Linked DNA regions of Homo sapiens. The protein of the gene in region 3 interacts with the protein of the main gene of each other region in a biochemical or structural test. Each region holds a gene or a part of one and is shown on either strand. Other genes may lie near its edges.

The links. Proteins that work in one complex are often made in the same cells at the same time.
Region 1: the proteins of SNTA1 (region 3) and DMD form a complex in vitro, tested with the Homo sapiens proteins (2 studies listed by BioGRID, with this or other methods).
Region 2: the proteins of SNTA1 (region 3) and SLC2A3 interact in a test that uses a peptide from one of them, tested with the Homo sapiens proteins (2 studies listed by BioGRID and IntAct).
Region 4: the proteins of SNTA1 (region 3) and SLC6A3 interact in a test that uses a peptide from one of them, tested with the Homo sapiens proteins (2 studies listed by BioGRID and IntAct).

What each region holds. Positions count from the first base shown.
Region 1 is NC_000023.11:32,339,591-32,344,604, reverse strand, and holds part of DMD (dystrophin), read left to right. Parts: intron 1-1,318; coding exon 1,319-1,471; intron 1,472-1,754; coding exon of another isoform or gene 1,755-1,763; exon of another isoform or gene 1,764-2,238; intron 2,239-2,322; coding exon 2,323-2,505; intron 2,506-5,014. UniProt on the Homo sapiens protein: Anchors the extracellular matrix to the cytoskeleton via F-actin. Ligand for dystroglycan.
Region 2 is NC_000012.12:7,928,729-7,933,742, forward strand, and holds part of SLC2A3 (solute carrier family 2, facilitated glucose transporter member 3), read right to left. Parts: intron 4,420-5,014; coding exon 4,259-4,419; intron 2,758-4,258; coding exon 2,517-2,757; intron 1,915-2,516; coding exon 1,752-1,914; intron 1,144-1,751; coding exon 956-1,143; intron 1-955. UniProt on the Homo sapiens protein: Facilitative glucose transporter. Can also mediate the uptake of various other monosaccharides across the cell membrane. Mediates the uptake of glucose, 2-deoxyglucose, galactose, mannose, xylose and fucose, and probably also dehydroascorbate.
Region 3 is NC_000020.11:33,432,742-33,438,171, forward strand, and holds part of SNTA1 (alpha-1-syntrophin), read right to left. Parts: intron 1-5,430. UniProt on the Homo sapiens protein: Adapter protein that binds to and probably organizes the subcellular localization of a variety of membrane proteins. May link various receptors to the actin cytoskeleton and the extracellular matrix via the dystrophin glycoprotein complex.
Region 4 is NC_000005.10:1,409,982-1,414,995, reverse strand, and holds part of SLC6A3 (sodium-dependent dopamine transporter), read left to right. Parts: intron 1-180; coding exon 181-305; intron 306-3,640; coding exon 3,641-3,753; intron 3,754-5,014. UniProt on the Homo sapiens protein: Mediates sodium- and chloride-dependent transport of dopamine. Also mediates sodium- and chloride-dependent transport of norepinephrine (also known as noradrenaline). Regulator of light-dependent retinal hyaloid vessel regression, downstream of OPN5 signaling.

The DNA.
Region 1 (5,014 bases), on a different chromosome or scaffold from region 3:
TAAGGCATGGCTCAACTCTAATTCACGTGGCTGTATCTTGCTACCTTTGAAAAAAGCAGCGTTCGATCTGACTCCTCAGAAGGTTTGAAAATTCAACATAAAACATAAAGTACAGCAAGGTTTAAATTCCCAATTTTAAACAAACTAGATAATGAAATGTAGTTCATTCTTGCAAATACAGGCTATAAGTGATTAATCAAAATCGTCAACACTACTCGCCAAACCAATCTATACCAACATATTCAATAACTTTTTAAACCTGTCAAATAGTTCCAATTCTGGTCCTTATGAAATATTTTAGAGAAGGTCAAAATTTTCCAATGGAATGAAATTTTTAGAAATTCCCTGATATTTATTATTTTTTCGCTCGAATTAAACCTGTGAATAAAACCCTAATTGCTACTTTCTGTAGAAATGAAAGCTGCATGCAGAGCTTATGTTCCCATGAATTATAAAATGGCATTTTGAGTAATTCTATTAATCACAGAAGATATTGAGTGTGCTTGTAAAGAGCATGATGACTGATTTCCTCCCATTGTTGATTTATTAAATTAGTCTTATCACATTGATTTGAAAGCATGCACTTGCTGTTTTCTTTTTTCAAATAGTTAATTGTTTTGCATTTAGAGCATGATTTGGTATAGTAAGATAAATGTGGCTATGCAAGCCTTGGAAGGAGAAGCATTTATCTCACATAATTTTTTATTAGTTATGTTCACCAATATACGAACAGTGGTGACACTTCTACACATACAGCTTGGAACAGTTTATAAGACAACTAAAATGGCTTTATATTTCTAATCATAAAATATTAATGGCCTATGAAACTCTTATGTAGGCATTTCTAAAAACATGAATGTATATTGGTTGAGTACATAAAGTTTTGTTGATGAGCCCCAAGGCTAAAGATATACATTTTAGAATTTTACCTATTTTAAGTCAGATACAAACTCACTAGGTTTGTGAGTTTGTATCTAGTTAAGTCAATTGTATTCGTATATTAAACTCTTGCACATAAACTACACAACAGTTAGCTCATTAAGAGTCAATTGAATGTGACAAAATTTTTAAGCAAGTTTGAACATGCTAAGAGAAAATACTTTAAGTGTGTTATTCAGGTTTCTTAGCTTCCTATACATGGGTCCCGCCTCATGCATAGGCAATTTAATTATGTCTTTGTATATTTTGCATTTAAATATGATTTTAACCTAAGTTGTACAAAAAGATGAGGGACGCAAATTATTTTGATAAATAACTGCAGCCAGAAGTGCACTATACATATATATTGATATTTTAATAATGTCTGCACCATGAACAGGATTTGAGGTCTCAAAGAAGAAAAAAGGCTCTAGAAATTTCTCATCAGTGGTATCAGTACAAGAGGCAGGCTGATGATCTCCTGAAATGCTTGGATGACATTGAAAAAAAATTAGCCAGCCTACCTGAGCCCAGAGATGAAAGGAAAATAAAGGTAATGTTGTTTTAGAATGTCAATACCAGATTTTATTATACAGTTTAATTAACCTGTGAAGATCATATTTAAAATGTTGATGTTCTTGTTTCTATTAACGTTCTCTTTGATTTGATGCATTTCCTTGTATTGTGTGTTGTTTTCAGTAAATGTATTGTATTAAGTGTTATTCAATTGACGTAATGTTGAATGAATAAAATGTTTTAGACTATGTAAAGTGATTTAAGAAATGTGATGTGTTTTCTGGTAAAATTGTAATTGACTTTGTGTATCTTTGTTCCAGATGAACTAATGACTTATCGGTATATGGACGACTTCTTACTCATGTTAGCCCATTCATTTCATCAGAGCATCTTCACACATCAGTGTTCACTCTCTATAGATTTATTTGCATATTGTCTAAATATGTTTTTTTCTGTTATTATTTTACACTTTTTATTTTGCTTCATTCTCTGTTGAGTTCCTCAAACCTTTAAAAAGGAAATAAATAACTTATTCACTTACCCTCTAAATTATATTCTATGTGGACGGTCCCTAATAAATAATGAGTTATCACTCCAAATTGTTTCAAATCCCAAGACACCAGAGGAATTTAGAAGAAAGAAAATGTTAGACCAATTTCAATATTTACTTAATTAGAATATCTAAAACCAAGCATTCAAAGGATAACTGAAATAATATTTGGGTTATTGAGCGAGGATGACAGTCATGCCTTTCATATTTGTAAACTTCAAAGGATGACAATAAAGGGACAACAGCCTTTGAAATTTTGAGAGAAGTATTTGCTGCTTGCAAGTCGGTTGATGTGGTTAGCTAACTGCCCTGGGCCCTGTATTGGTTTTGCTCAATAGGAAATTGATCGGGAATTGCAGAAGAAGAAAGAGGAGCTGAATGCAGTGCGTAGGCAAGCTGAGGGCTTGTCTGAGGATGGGGCCGCAATGGCAGTGGAGCCAACTCAGATCCAGCTCAGCAAGCGCTGGCGGGAAATTGAGAGCAAATTTGCTCAGTTTCGAAGACTCAACTTTGCACAAATTGTGAGTTGTTACTGGCAAACCCACGTATGTGTTTGCAACTACTACTCTATTAACAGAGGCCTACTAATAAAAAAAAAAGAGACAAAAAATCTGGGTACAGTTTTAAACTTCTAATGTACATTCTGAAAGTGAGTGGTTTCCCTCACTTTGGGCTTCTGTAACACTAGTGCTTAATTTTGCCAATTAAAGACACAAGAAATTAACAGATAACAGGGAAAACCCCTTATCAAAAATGAAAATACATCTTAATTTTTTTTGCTACATCATTTTTCATAACATTGGCAATGTTAATTTGTCAATTTATCATACATTCACTTTACTTCAATGTCTAATCCAAAAAATATGTATTGCTTTCCTGAGATCATCCCATGCTGATTTTACTTTCTTAATGTATACATGATAAATAATAAATATTTCATGGTACATCTTATGTCAACCTGCATAAGCCATTATCTCATTGACTTGAAGAATAATAGCTTAATCCTCACACCTGGTTTAACTACTTAATGGGTTACAGTGCCCATAAAAGAACTGGATGCCTAGTAAGATGGTTGCTAATTGATTGCAGATTGAACAATATCAGATAATGTTATTACTGAAATGTTACCAGCCAAAACAAAAAGGAGTGACTGCTCTTCTTTCAAACAACTGAATGGAAAGTGTATGGTTCTCTCTTTAAAAAGGCGATTCAGAATTGTTAGCTTGGTCTCACTTCTTTATTTGTAGTAGGTATAAACCATAGAGGTTTTCTGACAGGTACATTTTTGTTCCTATTATTAACACTTGTAAGATGAAGAGGAATGATCATCATCTGTAATTATAGAAGAAAGTACTCCTCACAAAACCAGGATGTCAAAATCTGGAAACTAAGTCTTTATAGTTAAGTTAGGTTGAATTATATGAATCAAACAGATACTCAACCATTTTGCCCTATGTAAATAATAACTGCATAGGGTTCAGCCCATGTATGAGACTTCTTGGGAACTTCTTCTGTGATAGTGTCAGTTCCATTTAATTTGGTGTATATTTTTAAAATGTCAAAAGCAGTTACCATAACTTAATTTTATAAGCATATAAGGGAAGTATGTTGCATATTATTGTGACTTCTTTTAATACTTCAAGAAAATTAATAAATACACTGTTTTCTGTTAAATCTAATACCCTAAAGTTTAATAGCAGGTGAATTATTCTGAGCAATTGGAAGAATACGAGAAATAGCGAAACTGTATTGCATGTGAAGTCTAATTCCACCTGGCTGAATGTTTCAGCCTATTATCCTTCATATTAGATGTTATGAATGTAATGTGTCATAAATAACCTTACACTAACCAGCAAGCCTGTGTCTGCAGATGCAAAATGAAGCGAAAGATTAAGGCAATCAAAAAGAAAATTCTAATAAAATAGTTTCACCTCAATTTAATAGATCATTCAAGGGGGAGTCCTTTGCTTTGAATTATCTGACTACTAACTCATTTCTCCATTCCAATTTTCCCCAGGTCTTGACACACCCAATATGCAGGTTTAAAATTCGTTACAAACTAATCAAGTTGCTAATGCTTTATGGCTAAATAGGCACAGGATCAAAAATCTCCATAAACCACTTACTTAAAATGCCATTATGTCCCTATTCATAGTAGGCTCTCAACAAATATTTGTACAACGTAATAATGACTGGTGAAATAAAGGAAGCATGTGTGAACCAGTATATATTTTTAAAAAATTGTAGTAAAATTCTGGGATATATTTTCCTCATAAACGATTTATTCTTAAGTTTTATATATTAAAGATCCAAAATTCAGAATGTGAAGGGGGCTATTTTTGTGTTAACTCTTAATTATCCATGATAATAAAGTAATCACAATCTGTATGAAGAATAATCAATTTAATATTGCAGTTATATTTGGCATCGTATTTTAATTAGAACTGAGGGATAATTGATAGATGATAAGTAGGTATATAGGTTGGTAGGTAGATAGATAGACAGGTGGGTGTAGAAATATTCAAGATACATCTTTATACTTGACCAATTGTCAATGCATTTTAAAACTAATTTCACTGTGGCCACTGATTAGAGTTATCTTTCCCAATTCTTACGCCCTAGAGTCATTTGTGATAGTCACAGTAACAGCTTAATGAAAAGTAGTATTTGATATAACCTTACAATGGCTCTGATGCAGCATATGCCATAGCTTCAGAATTTCTTACCTCCCCCTATATTCTCCTTCTCTAATTGTTTGATTTTTACTTTTCCTAACTGTCCCTTTTTGTTTTTCTAGATATAAACTGTAGGCTTAAAGTTCATCTTTCATGTCTTTACAGCAACATGTTGAAATAGTAAGCGGTACTCTTAAAATGCTTAGTATGTGAGAGCTGAGTGAGTTTAAAATGAAAAATTAATTTTCCTTATCTCACAGATAAAGACTCAGAGAAGTGCTAACCACTGTAAAATTAAGGCATTTAGGGGACTCTGTCCATGTCAGAGCTATATATGGTAGTAATAAAGCTCAGA
Region 2 (5,014 bases), on a different chromosome or scaffold from region 3:
ACGTGTGGCCTACATTATCATTTCCAAATGAAGAAATTTGAGACTGGGATTCATCAAAATCACCTAGGAGGCTTTTTCTAACTACTGTGTATTTCCTCCCAAGTTTTTTTTTTAAAGACAGGGTCATACTATATTTCCCAGGCTTGACTCCTGGGCCTAAGTGATATTCCCACCTCAGCCTCCCGAGTAGTAGCTGGGACTACAGGCATGAGCAGCCACCACACTTGGCTCCTCATAGATTCTGACATAACAGCCTCTAACCCCTCATAAGAAGCACTGCCACTTCAAATACAAATATCCTGGTGTGCTAGGTAGGAGAAAAGTTCCAAGAACCAACTTACTATTTTGAGCATCAAAATGCTCAAAATAGTAAGTTTTGCAAAATGCTTTGTTACAAAATAATTTAATCCCATTGATCAAAGACTATCTGAAAACCCTTAGGGGATGAATCAGTATTTAAAAAGGTGGGACAAGGGTGCTCTTAATATCCATATTGACTAGAAGGCACAGGAATACTCTCTTCCTACAATCCACAGTCAAATGCAGGAAGCTGATATTTGCATGGAATACAAGGGCTACCTGCCAAATGCTAGCTTCCGTTGTGCCGCCCTCTTTAAACTATCATCTATCATGCCCTCTTTAAACTACCATGCTCGCTATACTAGTTGTAAAAACAGACTGGTAAAGTCAGTTCACTCTGAAGTTGCCAGTGTCCTTCCAGGGTCTTTTTTTTTTTTCCTTTTTTTAAATTTCAGAGACACAGTCTCACTCTGTCTCCCAGGCTGGAATGCAGTGGCATAATTATAGCTCACTGCAACCTGAAACTCCTGAGCTCAAGTGATCCTCTTACCTCAGCCTCCTGAGTAGCTGGGACTACAGAGGCACACCGCCACCATGCCCGGCATTTTAAGTGAAATACTTTAAGACACGTTTGACCCTAAAGTATCACACTCACAGCATTGATCCCAGAGAGCTGCTGAGAGAGCTGGAGCACAATGGAAATGATGATGGGCTGTCGGTAGCTGGACACTCTAAAGAGCTCTAGCACGGTGACTTGCTTTTCTTGTGACATCCTTGCACTCTCATCTTTCATCTCCTGGATGTCTTGGGATACATCCTGGGTGCCCCACAACCGCTGGAGGACTGGTGAAAAGAAGAAAGAGGAAAGGATAAAAGAGAATGTGCTGCCCCAAATTCATTCTTCCTGTAAGGCAGCCAGGAAAGGGCCGCACGAGGTGAGGTGATGGGTAGCATCCATTCCTTTTTTTTTTTTTGAGACAGAGTTTCACTTTTGTTGCCCAGGCTGGAGTGCAATGGCATGATCTCAGCTCCCTGCAACCTCCACTTCCCGGGTTCACACGATTCTCCTGCCTCAGCCTCCCAAGTAGCTGGGATTACAGGCATGCGCCCCCATGCCCGGCTAATTTTGTATTTTTAGTAGAGACAGGGTTTCTCCATGTTGTTTCAGGCAGGTCTTGAACTCCTGACCTCAGGTGACCCGCCTCGGCCTCTTATAATGCTGGATTACAGGCATGAGCCATCACACCCTGCCTGATAGCATCCATTCCTAAACCCGCCTTTTCACCTCATTCTTTAGGGGCTGAAAATTTTACTCAGGAGTAATCAGAACCCTCCTCACTTGGATTCTGAGAGGCAGGGAAAGAGTGTAACAGAAAGTAGGTCCAGTACAATCATCCCTAAAACAAACCACAACCATATAATTCATGTAGTAAGGTGTGAAGGATACTCACTCTGCTTAGCATTCTCCTCTTCTTTTCTGTTAATGAGCAAAAATCTGGGACTTTCAGGGCAAAATGGAAGGGCTGCACTTTGTAGGATAGCAGGAAGGATGGTAAAACCCAGTAGCAGCGGCCATAGCTCTTCAGACCCAAGGATGAATTCCAGACCAAAGATCTAGAAACCACACAAAGATAATGCTATAAACCCCATACTTCACAGGCCACAAGTTCATTAAAACACAAAAAGTTCAGAAAATCATACATTCTTTTACCATGTGAAAAAATAAACAAATTGTGTTTCTTTTCCTTTCTCTACTCAGCATGGTTTTTTTTTTTTTTTTTTTTTTGAGACGGAGTCTTGCTCTGTCACCCAGGCTGGAGATCAGTGGCACAATCTCGGCTCACTGCAAACTCTGCCTACCGGGTTCACGCCATTCTCCCGCCTCAGCCTCCGGAGTAGCTGGGACTACAGGTGCCCGCTACCACGCCCGACCAATTTTTTGTGTTTTTAGTAGAGATGGGGTTTCACCATGTTAGCCAGGCTGGTCTTCATCTGCTGACCTCGTGATCTGCCCACCTCGGCCTCCCAAAGTGCTGGGATTACAGGCGTGAGCCACAGCGCCCGGCCTCAGCCTGCTTCTTCAGCTACTATCTATTATCTAAAACTTCCATATGTAATTGAACATGTGCCAGATATTCTTCAGTGCTTTACCTATGTTAACTTTTTTAATGACCCATGAAACTAACACTCATTAAGTATGAGAAGTTCTAGAGTACCTGGGCCACCAGAATTCCAACAACGATGCCCAGCTGGTTGAGAGTGCCAAAGGCACCCCGCAGGGCAGTAGGCGAGATCTCTCCAATGTACATGGGCACAAAACCTGTGCAGAGTCCGCAGAAGAGGCCAATAACCAAGCGACCCAGGATCAGCATTTCAACCGACTTAGCTACTTTACACAGTCCCATAAAGCAGCCACCAGTGACAGCCAACAGGTTGACAATCAGCATTGAATTGCGCCTGTAAGGTTAATCAAAGACAAAGTAGAATTAGCAAAGTGAGAGGCTCCTAACTTCTCCTCTGTCCTCATTATTCTGTTCTTCTCCAGGCTCATATCATCCCTTTTTTTTTTAATCTAACTTTTGTTTTTCACTTTCTATTATCAGAACATTTCTAGTTGGGAACCAGGTGTGATGGTGCCCGCCTGTAGTCCCAGGCACTCAGGGAGCTGAGGTCGGAGGTCGAAGCTGTAGTGAGCTATGATTGGGCCATTACACTCCAGCCCGGGTGACAGAGCAAGACCCTCTTTCTTGGGGGGTAAAAAAACAAAAGAACAACATAATCAAGTAAAACAGGTTGCTTTACCGATTTTTAAATGTGAATTCCAATTGCATTTCTAGAATATCTAATTGGCATTTTTTTTTTTTTTTTTTGGAGACGGAGTCTTGGTCTGTCACCCAGGCTGGAGTGCAGTGGCAGGATCTCGGCTCACTGCAACCTGCGCCTCCCAGGCTCAAGAGATTCTCCTGCCTCAGCTTCCAAGCAGCTGGGATTGCAGGCGCATGCCACCACGCCCGGCTAATTTTTTGTATTTTTAGTAGGGACAGGGTTTCACCGTGTTAGCCAGGATGGTCTCGATCTCCTGACCTTGTTATCTGCCCGCCTCAGCCTCCCAAAGTGCTGGGATTACAGGCGTGAGCCACGGCACCGGCTTTTTTTTTTTTGAGACGGGGTTTTGCTCTTTCGCCCAGGCTGGTGTGAAGTGGCCAGATCTCAGCTTACTGCACCCTCTGCACCCCCACTGCAGGTTCAAGTGATTTTCCTGCCTCAGCCTCCGGAGTAGCTGGAATTATAGGTGCCTGTCACTACGCCCGGCTAATTTTTGTATTTTTGGTAGAGACAGGGTTTTGCCATGTTGGCCAGGCTGGTCTCGAACTCCTGACCTCAGCTGATCCACTTGCCTCGGTTTCCCAAAGTGCTAGGATTACAGGGGTGAGCCACCACACCGTGCCTAATTGGCAAATTAAAACAGTTCCTTCATTAGTCATAAATGAAAATATATTCTACCTTCTAAAACATATTGTTAAGCTTCTATAGAATAAGACTTTTTTTTTGTCATTATCCACATTTGCCATAGACAAAAATAATTCCTACCAATCCTGGGTAAAATAATAAAAACATTTATAATACAAGTAAACAACTTCGGACCTTGTAAATTAAGTATGTTTCTAGAAACCCCATAGTTGAGTTTACTAGGGAATAATTCTGAACTATCCCTAGCTGGACTGCAAAGGCCAATCACTCACAGTTCATCTCTTGCACAGCTGGGTGGGAGCTCTCCAGGGTAGTAGAGCTCCAAGCAAGGGCAGTCATATTCGGGGCCAGTTGGACTAGGTTTCCCTTGATTAGAATTCAAGGTGTTCTTATTCAAAGGCATCATCACCTCCCTGCCCTAACTCTCCACACTTGTCCTCAATGTGGCTGGTAGAGCCCACTTCCTTGCCCAGTTTCTAGTCAATACCTGCCAAAGCGGTTGACGAAGAGTCCGACGGAAAAGGAGCCGATCATACCCCCGACGGAAAATATGGCCACAGACAAGGACCAGAGAGACGTGAGCAGCACCTCAGAGGGTGGGGCATTTCCCTTGTCCGTCAAAGTTTTATTGATAAATTCCTTTATGATCTGCAAAATAAAAGGGTTGGTGGAAGAACAGACTGTTACAGTTGGATGAGAACAAAAGACAAACATTAGGGATCATTTCCTTCCTAGAGAATCAAGGGAATAAATAGACAGGAATGGAAGGGGCAGATAACGTATTGGAATTTATGTTAACTCTCGCTGGAATAGTAATTCTATTTGTCCTGAAAATCCCAGTAGGTGGCAGCACCGATGTTCACAGTCTACCCCAGCCCTCTGCTAAGGGAACCCAGCTTCTTTGTAACTAACCCCTAAGGGATAATACAGGATGTGCATCACTATGAGGTGAAAGAGTGGGAGGAAGAACAGCACCGCCCAGCGTTCCGGGAGTAAGTGAGCTTTGTGCTTCGATTAGATGACCCCACTAATTTTCCCCACCAATATTGTCTCCATCTTCAGTCTTGGACAGGATAGATACAAAGTTTGTCTTAAAATCCCCTAGTTTGGGGAGGGACCCTCACTAACTGTGTTGCTCAGGATGGTGTTTAACTCCTGGACTCAAGTGATCTTTAAGCCTCAGCCTCAGGAGTAGCTGGGACTCCAGGCAGATGCCACCATGCCTGGCCTTAAATTCTGAATT
Region 3 (5,430 bases):
TCCCAGCTACTTGAGAGGCTGAGATAGGAGGATCGCTTGAGCCCAGGAGTTGAGGCTGCAGTGAGCTGCAATCACACCTCTGTGCTATAGGCTGGGCAACAGAGTGAGATCCTAAATAAATAAATAAAAGCCTGATCTCTATGAGGGCTATACCTTCCTTACTTTATATAAAGCACTAAAATTCACTTTATTAATTTTTTTTTTTTGAGATAGAGACTCACTCTGTCACCCAAGCTGGAATGCAGTGGTGCAATCTTGGCTCACTGCGACATCCACCTCCTGGGTTCAAGTGATTCTCCTGTCTCAGCCTCCTGAGTAGCTGGGATTACAGGTGCCTGCCACCACGCCCAGCTAATTTTTATATTTTTCGTAGAGATGGAGTTTCACCATTTTGGCCAGGCTGGTCTCGAACTCCTGACCTCAGGTGGTCCACCCACCTCAGCCTCCCAAAGTGCTGGGATTACAGGCGTGAGCCACCTTGCCTGGCCTTAGTATTATTTTTTGTTTTTTGTCGGGTTTTTCTTTTTTCTTTTTTTTTTGAGATGGAGTTTTGCTCTTGTTGCCCCAGGCTGGAGTACAATGGTTCGATCTTGGCTCACTGAAACCTCTGCCTCCTGGGTTCAAGCAATTCTCCTACCTCAGCCTCCCGAGTAGCTGGGATTACAGGCGCGTGTCACCATGCTCAGCTAATTTTTGTATATTATTAGTAGAGACGGGGTTTCACCATGTTGCCCAGGCTAGTCTCGAACCCCTGACCTCAGTTGATCTGCCTGCCTCAGCCTCCCAAAGTGCTAGGATTACAGGCATGAGTCACCGCGCCCAGCCAGCATTATTTTTAATGCATGACAGGCTCACTGTTGTCACAGTCCTGCCAGCCACACTGGAATGGGAGGAGGGAAGGGTGTTTTCCTTGAGGCTGTCCCTCCCTCTTCCCCCAGGCCTGGCCTTCAAGGGCCCAGGCTGGCCCTGGCTTGAGGTCTGCACACACAACGGGCCTCTCGAAGCAGCGGACAGACACTTGTTGGCTGCCAACTTGGGCCCAGACTGTGGTCACAAACACACCCCTCTGGCTGAGAACAGGATCAGGACATTTCTGCAAACCCCTGACCTAGTAGAAGAAATGTTCTAGGAGGCAGGTTGGGGTTGCTGAGGCTCAGCTGAGCCCCCAACTTAGGCCAGGGAAGTAAGGCTCTAGCTGACACCTGGAGTTTGCTGGTAATGCTTGTTCTCCCAGGACATCCTCAGGGGATTCACTATCCACTGAGCTGGAAAAATATCCAGTTGCCTTGCCAAGTTCACATCCAAAGGACAGGCCATCCTTCCATGGCCCCTTGGAGGCGTCCTCAGTAATGGGATGTGAGTGGGGAAATGTTGAACAATGTGGTCAGTGATTCAACTCCGGGGAAACCTAGGCCCAGAGAGGGTCCCAGGAACCCTGGCTGCTCCAGACTGGTGCAACTGCCAGGCCCAGACCTTCTCCACTCCCCAAAGTCTCAAGGACCAGCCACAGCCCAGCATCCTCCTATCCTTCAGACCTCTCTGATCACTCTTGCCATTCAGAGATTCCTGACTCCAGTGCCTTCCACCACTCCTCCTCCCCTCTTTGTGCTATCTTGAGTGGAATGACCTCCTTCCATGAGATCTTGGGCCAGGAGAATAGGTCGAAAAAGACTTCAACTAAGGAAAAGTGGGGAAAAACATGAAGGCCACATTCTTCTTTCTCTTACCCAGGCCATAGGCAGGGTTCACCAAGGAATGATCTCGTCCTGTGAAACATCTCAGAGAATATAAGAGCAGGGGCCCCTCAGTCCTGGGATGATACACATGTTACTTCTCTACTGCATCTGTAGTAGACATTGCTAATCAATTCCAGCTCCTTTCTGCTGAGCCCAGACAAAGCCTCCCAATCCTTCCAAATATGGAACTCACAGAACCACCAGTGGAGCTGACGCTTACACTCTTTTTTTTTTTTTTCCTACAGAGATGAAATCTCACTGTGTTGCCCAAGCTGGTCTCGAACTCCTGGGCTCAAGTGATCTGCCCACCTAAGCCTCCCAAAGTGTTGGGATTACAGGCGTAAGCCACCACGCCTGCCTGGAGCTGCCACTCTAAATAAAAGCTATTGATCACCTCTGATCTAGCCTAACTTCAATAGGAAAACTGAGTCCCCTAGAAGGCAAGGGTCTTACCCAAGGCCAAACAGAGATTTATTGCAGAGCAGACAGGATTTCAGGCACCAGCTTTTTTTTTTTTTTTTTTTTTTTTTTTGAGATGGATTCTTGCTCTTGTCGCCCAGGCTGGAGTGCAGCGGCACAATCACGGCTCACTGCAACCTCCGCCTCCCGTGTTCAAGATTTTCCTACCTCAGCCTCCTGAGTAGCTGGGATTACAGGCACGCGCCACCATGGCTCAGCTAATTTTTGTATTTTTAGTAGAGACGGGGTTTCGCCATGTTGGCCAGGCTGGTCTCAAACTCCTGGCCTCAGGTGATCCACCCGCCTCAGCCTCCCAAAGTGCTGGGATTACAGGCGTGAGTCACAGCACCTAGCCACCGGCTTTTAAAGAGTTTCTGTAGGCCAGGCATGGTGGCTCACGTCTGTAATCCCAGCACTTTGGGAGGCCCAGGCAGGCAGATCACTGAGGCCGGGAGTTCGAGACCAGCCTGGCCAACATGGCAAAACCCTGTCTCTACTAAAAATACAAAAATTAACCAGGCCGTGGTGGTGCACACCTGTAATTCCAGCTACAGAACTGAGGCAGAGAATCGCTTGAACCTGGGAGAAGGAGGTTGCAGTAAGCTGAGATCGCACTACTGCACTCCAGCCTGGGCAACAGAGTGAGACCCTGCCTCAAGAAAAAAACACAGTTTGTGTAGAGGAGATAGTGTTTATGTTTTGTCTACCCTACCACATGGTGAGCTCCTTCAGGAGAGGCCCTGGGTGTAGTTTAGCTTCTGACCTTAATATACACAGCAGGCACACAGTAGATGTCCATGAATGTCTCTTGGCTTAGTGAGGAGGAATGCATGACATGAGTTAGAGGGAAGGCTTGAGTATTCACTCCTAAAGTCAGAAGATGCTTCAAGGTCACACATTTACAGATACTACCTTCTCAAAACGACATACATGGGAACCCAGATAGATACATTTTTAATCTAAAGATGAGGAGGTGGGCCGGGCGCGGTGGCTCACGCGTGTAATCCCAGCACTTTGGGAGGCCGGGGCGGGCAGATCACAAGGTCAGGAGATCGAGACCATCCTGGCTAACACGGTGAAACCACATCTCTACTAATAATACAAAAAATTAGCCAGGCGTGGTGGCGGGCACCTGTAGTCCCAGCTACTTGGGAGGCTGAGCAGGAGAATGGCGTGAACCCGGGAGGCGGAGCTTGCAGTGAGCCGAGATCCCGCCACTGCACTCCAACCTGGGTGACAGAGCAAGACTCTGTCTCAAAAATATAAATAAATAAAAATAAAAAATAAAGATGAGGAGGTGAGGGGACCTCCGTGTGAATGTGGATTTGAATTGTGTCTATAGCAGAAATTTTACCATAGACTAAACTTTCAAACAACAGAAGCTAAAAGAGCTTTCAAGTCAACTAAAATATGACATTTCGATGAATGTCAGTGGTTTCAAACCGCATTGCTGACTATAAATATCAAAGTAATGAGGCATGTGGGGAAAGTCTCTTATATCCATATCATTTATGTGGCATTCTATTATTTAACTTTGCCATTAAAATATGATTGATACACTTAAGCTTCTAAGGATCAACACTCTAGAGTCAGCTTTTTTTAAGTATCAAAAAAATGCATCTAGACTGGGCACTGTGGCCTGCAATCCCAGCACTTTGGGAGACTTAGGTGGGAGGATCCCTTAAGCCCAGGAGTTGGAGACCAGCCCAGGCAACATGGTGAAACCCTGTCTCTACAAAAAATTGGCTAGGTGTGGTGGCTCACGCCTGTAATCCCAGCACTTTGGGAGGCCGAGGCAGGCAGATCACGAGGTCAGGAGTTCGAGACCAGCCTGGCCAATATGGTGAAACCCTGTCTCTACTAAAAATACAAAAAAAAAATTAGCCAGGCGTGGTAGTGCGCACCTGTAGTCCCAGCTACTCGGAAGGCTAAGGCAGAAGAATCGCTTGAACCTGGAAGGCGGAGGATGCAGTGAGCCAAGATCGCGCCACTGCTCCAGCCTGGGCGACAGAGTAAGACTCCATCTCAAAAAAAAAAAAAAAAAAAAGCTAGGCGCAGGGGCTCACACCTGTAATCCCAGCACTTTTGGAGGCTGAGGCAGGTGGATCACAAGCTCAGGAGTTTGAGACCAGCCTGGCCAATATGGTGAAACCTCATCTCTACTAAAAATAAAAAAATTAGCCGGGCATGGTGGTGGGTGCCTGTAATCCCAGCTACTCAGGAGGCGGAGGCAGAAGAATTGCTTGAACCCGGGAGACGGAGGTTGCAGTGAGCCGAGATCATGCCACTGCACTCCAGCCTGGGCAACAGAGTGAGACTCCATCTCAGAAAAAAAAAAAAATTAACCAGGTGTGGTGGCATGCATCTGTAGTCCCAGCCACTCAGGAGGTTGAGGTGGGAGGATTGTTTGAGCCCCGGGGGGTGGAGGGTGCATTGAGCCAAGATCATACTACTGTACTCCAGCCTGGGTGATAGAGCAAGACCCTGTCTCGAAAAAAAAAAAAAACAAGAAAAAAAAATGCATCCATGGCATTTAAATAGATATACCTAAAATATAAAATAAAACTTTACATTTTATTTTCTTTATTTAAATTTTATTTTATTTTATATCTGGGTCAACCAAGGACCGAGAACCTATTTGCTTCTGTGGCCTCTTGGACACTCCTTTAGGGAAACCAAGGCAACCCACCAGGATTTGGGCCTGGGACTCAACTCAGCAGCTTCTCTGGCCGTGTTATTCTCCATCAGCCCCCGCCACCTCCCTGTGCCTGTTCTGGGCCATAAGCCAGAGACACATTCCTCAGGCCCCCACGGGGCTTCCAGAGCTGACAGAGTTTGAGGAAAGGGCTGAGCAAAGCAGAAACCTCTTGAGAGACATGGCACAAGATGGTCATGGGACAACCTCAGCAGGAGGCGTGTAACAACTGATGGGGAAACCGAGGCCCACAGAGGGCAAGGGTCCCACCCAAGACCACACTGTGAGGGAACAGTGGAGAAAGCCATTCAACCAAGGTTCCTCCACAAAACTCCTCTCTGATCCTGGCTGGAAGGATTTGATGTCCTACTCTATAAAAGCCAAGGCCTCTGGGCGTGGTGGCTCATGCCTGTAATCTCAGCACTTTGGGAGACTGAGGTGGGTGGATCACCTAAGGCCAGGAGTTCAAGACTAGCCTGGCCAACATGGCAAAACCCTGTCTCTACAAAAATATAAAAATTAGCTGGGCATGGTGACGCA
Region 4 (5,014 bases), on a different chromosome or scaffold from region 3:
GGTGGCCCAAGGACAGCTCTGCCAGGCTGCTAAGGAGCTGGCCGTGCTCACTGGGAAAAGTAGCCCCTCCGAAGACCTCCCGCCCCCTTCCCCAGACACAGTAAATTAAGAATAATGACTGGAAAATTGCAGCTGCTGCAGCTCAGCTGGTTCCTGAGACGGCGTGTCTTGTTCTTACAGGGACGCGATTGTCACCACCTCCATCAACTCCCTGACGAGCTTCTCCTCCGGCTTCGTCGTCTTCTCCTTCCTGGGGTACATGGCACAGAAGCACAGTGTGCCCATCGGGGACGTGGCCAAGGACGGTGAGCCCCTCCTGCTGCACCTGGGCCTGCTCCGTGTAGCACCAGCGCCGAGCTCTCAGCAAAGCCTTTTTCCTTGTGAAAGAGGAAGGAGACGCATGGGCCCTGAGCGACTTCAGTGAGAGTTGCTGCCTCACTCTTGAAGGATGGTGGTACACATCCCAGTACAGACCTGCCCCCACCCAGCGCCTTCCCCGCCCTGACCCTCCAGGCCCCCCACCCAGCGCCTTCCCCGCCCTGCCCCTCCCGGCCCCCCACCCAGTGCCTTCTCCGCCCTGCCCCTCCAGGCCCCCCCACCCAGTGCCTTTCCTGCCTTGTGCCTCTCGGGGCCTCCACCCTGGGCTGGGGAACCTCAAGCCCAAATGCAGCTGAGCAGCATAGTTGGTGCCTCAGTCCCTCGACTGCTCCCTGCAGATGCCACATGAGGCTGCCCCACCAGGGTCTGGCGTAGATGCTGTCACTGAGGGCCCTCTAGATGTTTGCTTGCCACGCGGTGTGGGAACATGCAGCTCAGGGAAGGGGAGGAATGAGCTGTTCCAGCAACACCTGGAGGCAGGCTGGGATGCCGCAAACATCAGCTTGGCCACAGAGCAGCCGGGAGATCCCTGGGGCCTCCAGCACAGGGTGTCCCTGCCCGCTCCCCAGGCCGACGCATGACGCTGAGTGTCCCTGCACGCCTGGAGTTGTCTCCGAGAGGGTGGGGAGGGGTCCAGGTCTCGGGCAGGCACAGGTGAGTGGTGGGGGGAGGCCTTGGCCACAGCAAGAAGTGTGCCAGGCAGGATGGAGCCGGCAGGACGGGCACAGATGCAGGGGCTGAGAGTGGGCCCAGGCACTTGGGGCCACGTGCCTGGCTCCGGTGCTTGCAGTGGAAAGCTGTGGCGTTGGCAGCCCTAACTTGGGCCAACCGAGAGCTCCAGGGAGTCCCAAGGCTTCTCGGTCTCTGTCAGCCAGCAGAGCCCCCGCCTGCCTCCCGGCCTGCTCTGCCACATGGATGTGGAGGAGGCCCTTTCGCTCCAGACACGGGCCTGGGTTGGGTGGGCTCCCATGCTGCGTCCCCATCCTTGCTTCCTCTGGACTGTCTTCTCCGGGGGTGGGGTGGGGGCACTACATTTGTGAGGAATGATTGTGCTCAGAAAAGCCCCTGTCCCGTGTGGGTGTTGTTGCTGACTGATCTCTGCCTGGGTGTTGAGGCTCAGTGAAGGCGGGGAGCGACAAGCACCAAGCGGGGGCAGCCTTGACCGCACCTGAGTCTCACAGAGTGGGGCACTAGGACCCTCGCACCGCAGGTAGGAACACGCTCAGAGACCTGAAAGGGCCCACTCCATGCTTGCAACAGAAAGCCAGGGTCGGGGCTGGAGCCACAGCTCAGAGGTGGGCCTCCTAAGCCCATGTTCTTTCCACTAGGAAAAAAAATTCAGTCAAAGCGGGAGAAAGGGAACATCTGCAAATAAATGCAGAGCAGTGAAATTTACTCGGTGCCGCATTTATGCCTTTTCTTCATTCTTTTTGCCCTTTATTATGATAACGAGCATAGTTTGCAAAAACCTCTATTAACCCCTGAAAATAAAGTTGAATGTTCTTCTGTGCATTTCATGACAAGCAAAGTAAATGTCATTTACAGCCTTAATTCTCAAGAAAATAGGGTGAAATGTTAACTTAGGTACAGAAACGAAGGCACGGGTGTTGACATTACATTCCCTGAGCTGATGAATATCTTCCCAGGCTCCTGGCTGGTACCATCTAAGCCCCGGAACATCTCAGGCGAGCCTGCCTCCCCCACCCCACGCGGAGGCTGTCCCCATCCACCAGGGTATCTGGGAGCTGCGAGAGCCCAGGTCTGACCCCGCTGCTTGGCTGATAGTGAGGCCCCTGAAAGACCTTTAGGAACGGCCCCTGGCTCTGGCCTTTGATTATTTAAAAGGCCAGGCGCAGGCCTATTCCTGCAGGCTAGGGCCAGACACGTGCCTGCTGAGGACAGGGGACTCTGTTGCAGGCAGATTGGGCTTGGGAGATGGTGCCAGCCAGTGGAGGATGCAAGGCTTCTGAACTGGTCAAAGGTCAATTGCCTATGGGACTGGTTTTTACTTTGGGGTCATCAGAGACCAAACTGCGTTGACTTTTGGTCGCCTGCCTGCCACACTCTCGTCCCCTCCACCTCCATCCGAGTCTGCCTGCTGGTAGCAGGAAGCACGTGTCGTTTCCCGAGAGAGCTGTGGGGGAACACCTCCTCCGCCTTTGCCATGCCGCCCTCAGCCTGGCGTGCCCCTCGCTTGCAGGGATAGCAAGGTAGCAGGTTTGTCTCTTATCTCCGAAGCCACCATCTGGGCCCCTGTATCCATCAGGATGTGCTGCTCCTCTGAGCCCTCAGGGCCCCAGCTGACAGGAGCCTGTCTCAATATGGCCTGCGGGACCCCGTGGCAGGGGAGGTGGTGAAGGAGCCACACACTCCTCTACCAAGCTTCACTCGCAGGGACCCGCTCACTGTGGGTTCACAGCACATTGGCCAAGTGCAGCCACGTCTAACCTCACGGGAGGGTGGGAGGACCTCAGCTTCCTCATGTGCCTGGAAGGCGGAGGTCAGGAATGTATCCCTAAATGTTTTGCTAATTTTAGAAATTAGGCTACTAAATAGTGTGGACGTGTGTGATTTGTGTGTGTTTGTGTATGTTTGTGCATGCACGTGCATGTTTCTGTTTGTGTGCGTGCATGTGGATGTGTTCTTGCATGTATGAGTTTGAATGCACAAATGAGTGTTCGTGCATGTGCGCGCATGTGTCTGTGTGTGTATATTGCATGGTATGTGTGTCTGAGTGTGTATGTTGCATGGTATGTGTGTCTGAGTGTGTATGTTGCATGGTATGTGTGTCTGAGTGTGTATGTTGCATGGTATGTGTGTCTGAGTGTGTATGTTGCATGGTATGTGTGTCTGAGTGTGTATGTTGCATGGTATGTGCAGGAAAAACTAACTCGAAGGACATTAGCAGATGTCCCTGGGATGAAGGGCAGGACCAGCCTGGAAGCCCCTCCTGCTCCTCCTTGTTTCTGCCCCTTCCTTCCCCAAGCACCCCCATAGCCCAAAAGGACCCAGGTAATTTGGAGGAGCCCCATTGCTGGGTGGTGGGCATGAACCAAAGCCCTCTGATCAGTTCTGGGTTTCCGCTTTCCTGAGTCCCAGGCCTGGTCTGCTGGACATATAGAAGGGGGCTTTTCAGCAGAGCCGCACCAGCCCTAGTCTCTACAGGCCTGTGGCAGGCCATGCTTCTCGGGGCGGGGTGGGGCAGGATGGGCGGGAGAGCACAGCGTGGGCTCTGTGGCAAGCAGGGCGGGTTCTGTTTCAGGGCCAGGGCTGATCTTCATCATCTACCCGGAAGCCATCGCCACGCTCCCTCTGTCCTCAGCCTGGGCCGTGGTCTTCTTCATCATGCTGCTCACCCTGGGTATCGACAGCGCCGTGAGTAACCCGCACCGCCCGGCCCTGTCCTCGGCAGTTGGGTTCCTTCCACCCGAGGGGGCCCTGCCCTCCCAGGGCTAGGCAAGATCCCTGGGCTCACGTACGGCCCCCAGACCTCCTGTCCTTGACTTGGGCGAGCCCCGTGATTATTTGGGAGACCTTTCTCGGGGCTGGAGTGAGTGGTGACTGGAGTTTACCTTTCCCTTTATCCCCCTACTCTGGGGTACCTGTGTGCCCTGCCCTGAGCCACCTACAGATCCTGGAAATGTGCACACACATGCACACACACACATACACGCACACACATACACACATACACGAACACACACATTCACACCACCATGCACATGCATGCACACACATACACACATGCACACACGCACACATACATGAACACACACGAACACACACATGCACACACGCATGCACACACACATACACACAGACATGCATGCACGTGTAGCAGGGCCCCAGCCACCAAAGACTTGGCTCCGGACACCAGAGTGGTGGGGCCTTGGAGGGCACACAGCAGGTCCTTCATATCTCGTGGCTTTCCCTGGAAGCCTCAGCTACCCCATGAGGAATGAGGAGGGCAACAGAAGTTCCTGGCACCTACCAATCCCAGGCCTGGCCCTGAATGCTTTGTGTGTGGCCCCTGCACCTCCAGCTGCTGGGGGTGGCGGGTCCAGCCCTTGATCGGCCCTGGGCCTGCTGGACTTTCTCAGGCTCCTTCTTCCCTGTCAGCTGCTTGGGACCAAAGAACCCAGAATCCCTTGCCTTATAAACGCTGGTCATGCACCCGGCCCCCCACTCATATCCTATCCACCTCGTCCACGGCTCCTGGGTTGACCACAGGCCTCATGTTCCTGACATGAGAGCATGAAGAGGGGTCTGGACCGAGCAAGGTGAAGAAGGTCACTAAGCAGGAGTCAGGTGCCTGGACGGTGTCCCACAGGAGGATGCCAGGAGTCAGGAGGCTCCGTCGGGAAGGCGTAGCCAATGACAAGGCCAGGTGCAGCTGAAAGCTTTGTGTGGGGGACGCATCTTGCTCAGGAAAATCTGGCCAAGCTGAGCCCGTGCAGCAGCAGTGGACAGGGTGGCATTGTTTTAGCCATGCCGCATCTTACCCACCCAGAGACATCGAAGAGGCTGCAAACCCCCTACCGTGGATACAGTGGTCCCTCTGGGTCCTCTCTCCTGCGGTCGTGCCGCCATAGAAGCCCTCGCCAACAGCTGTCCTCACTACCAGGCATCCTGCACC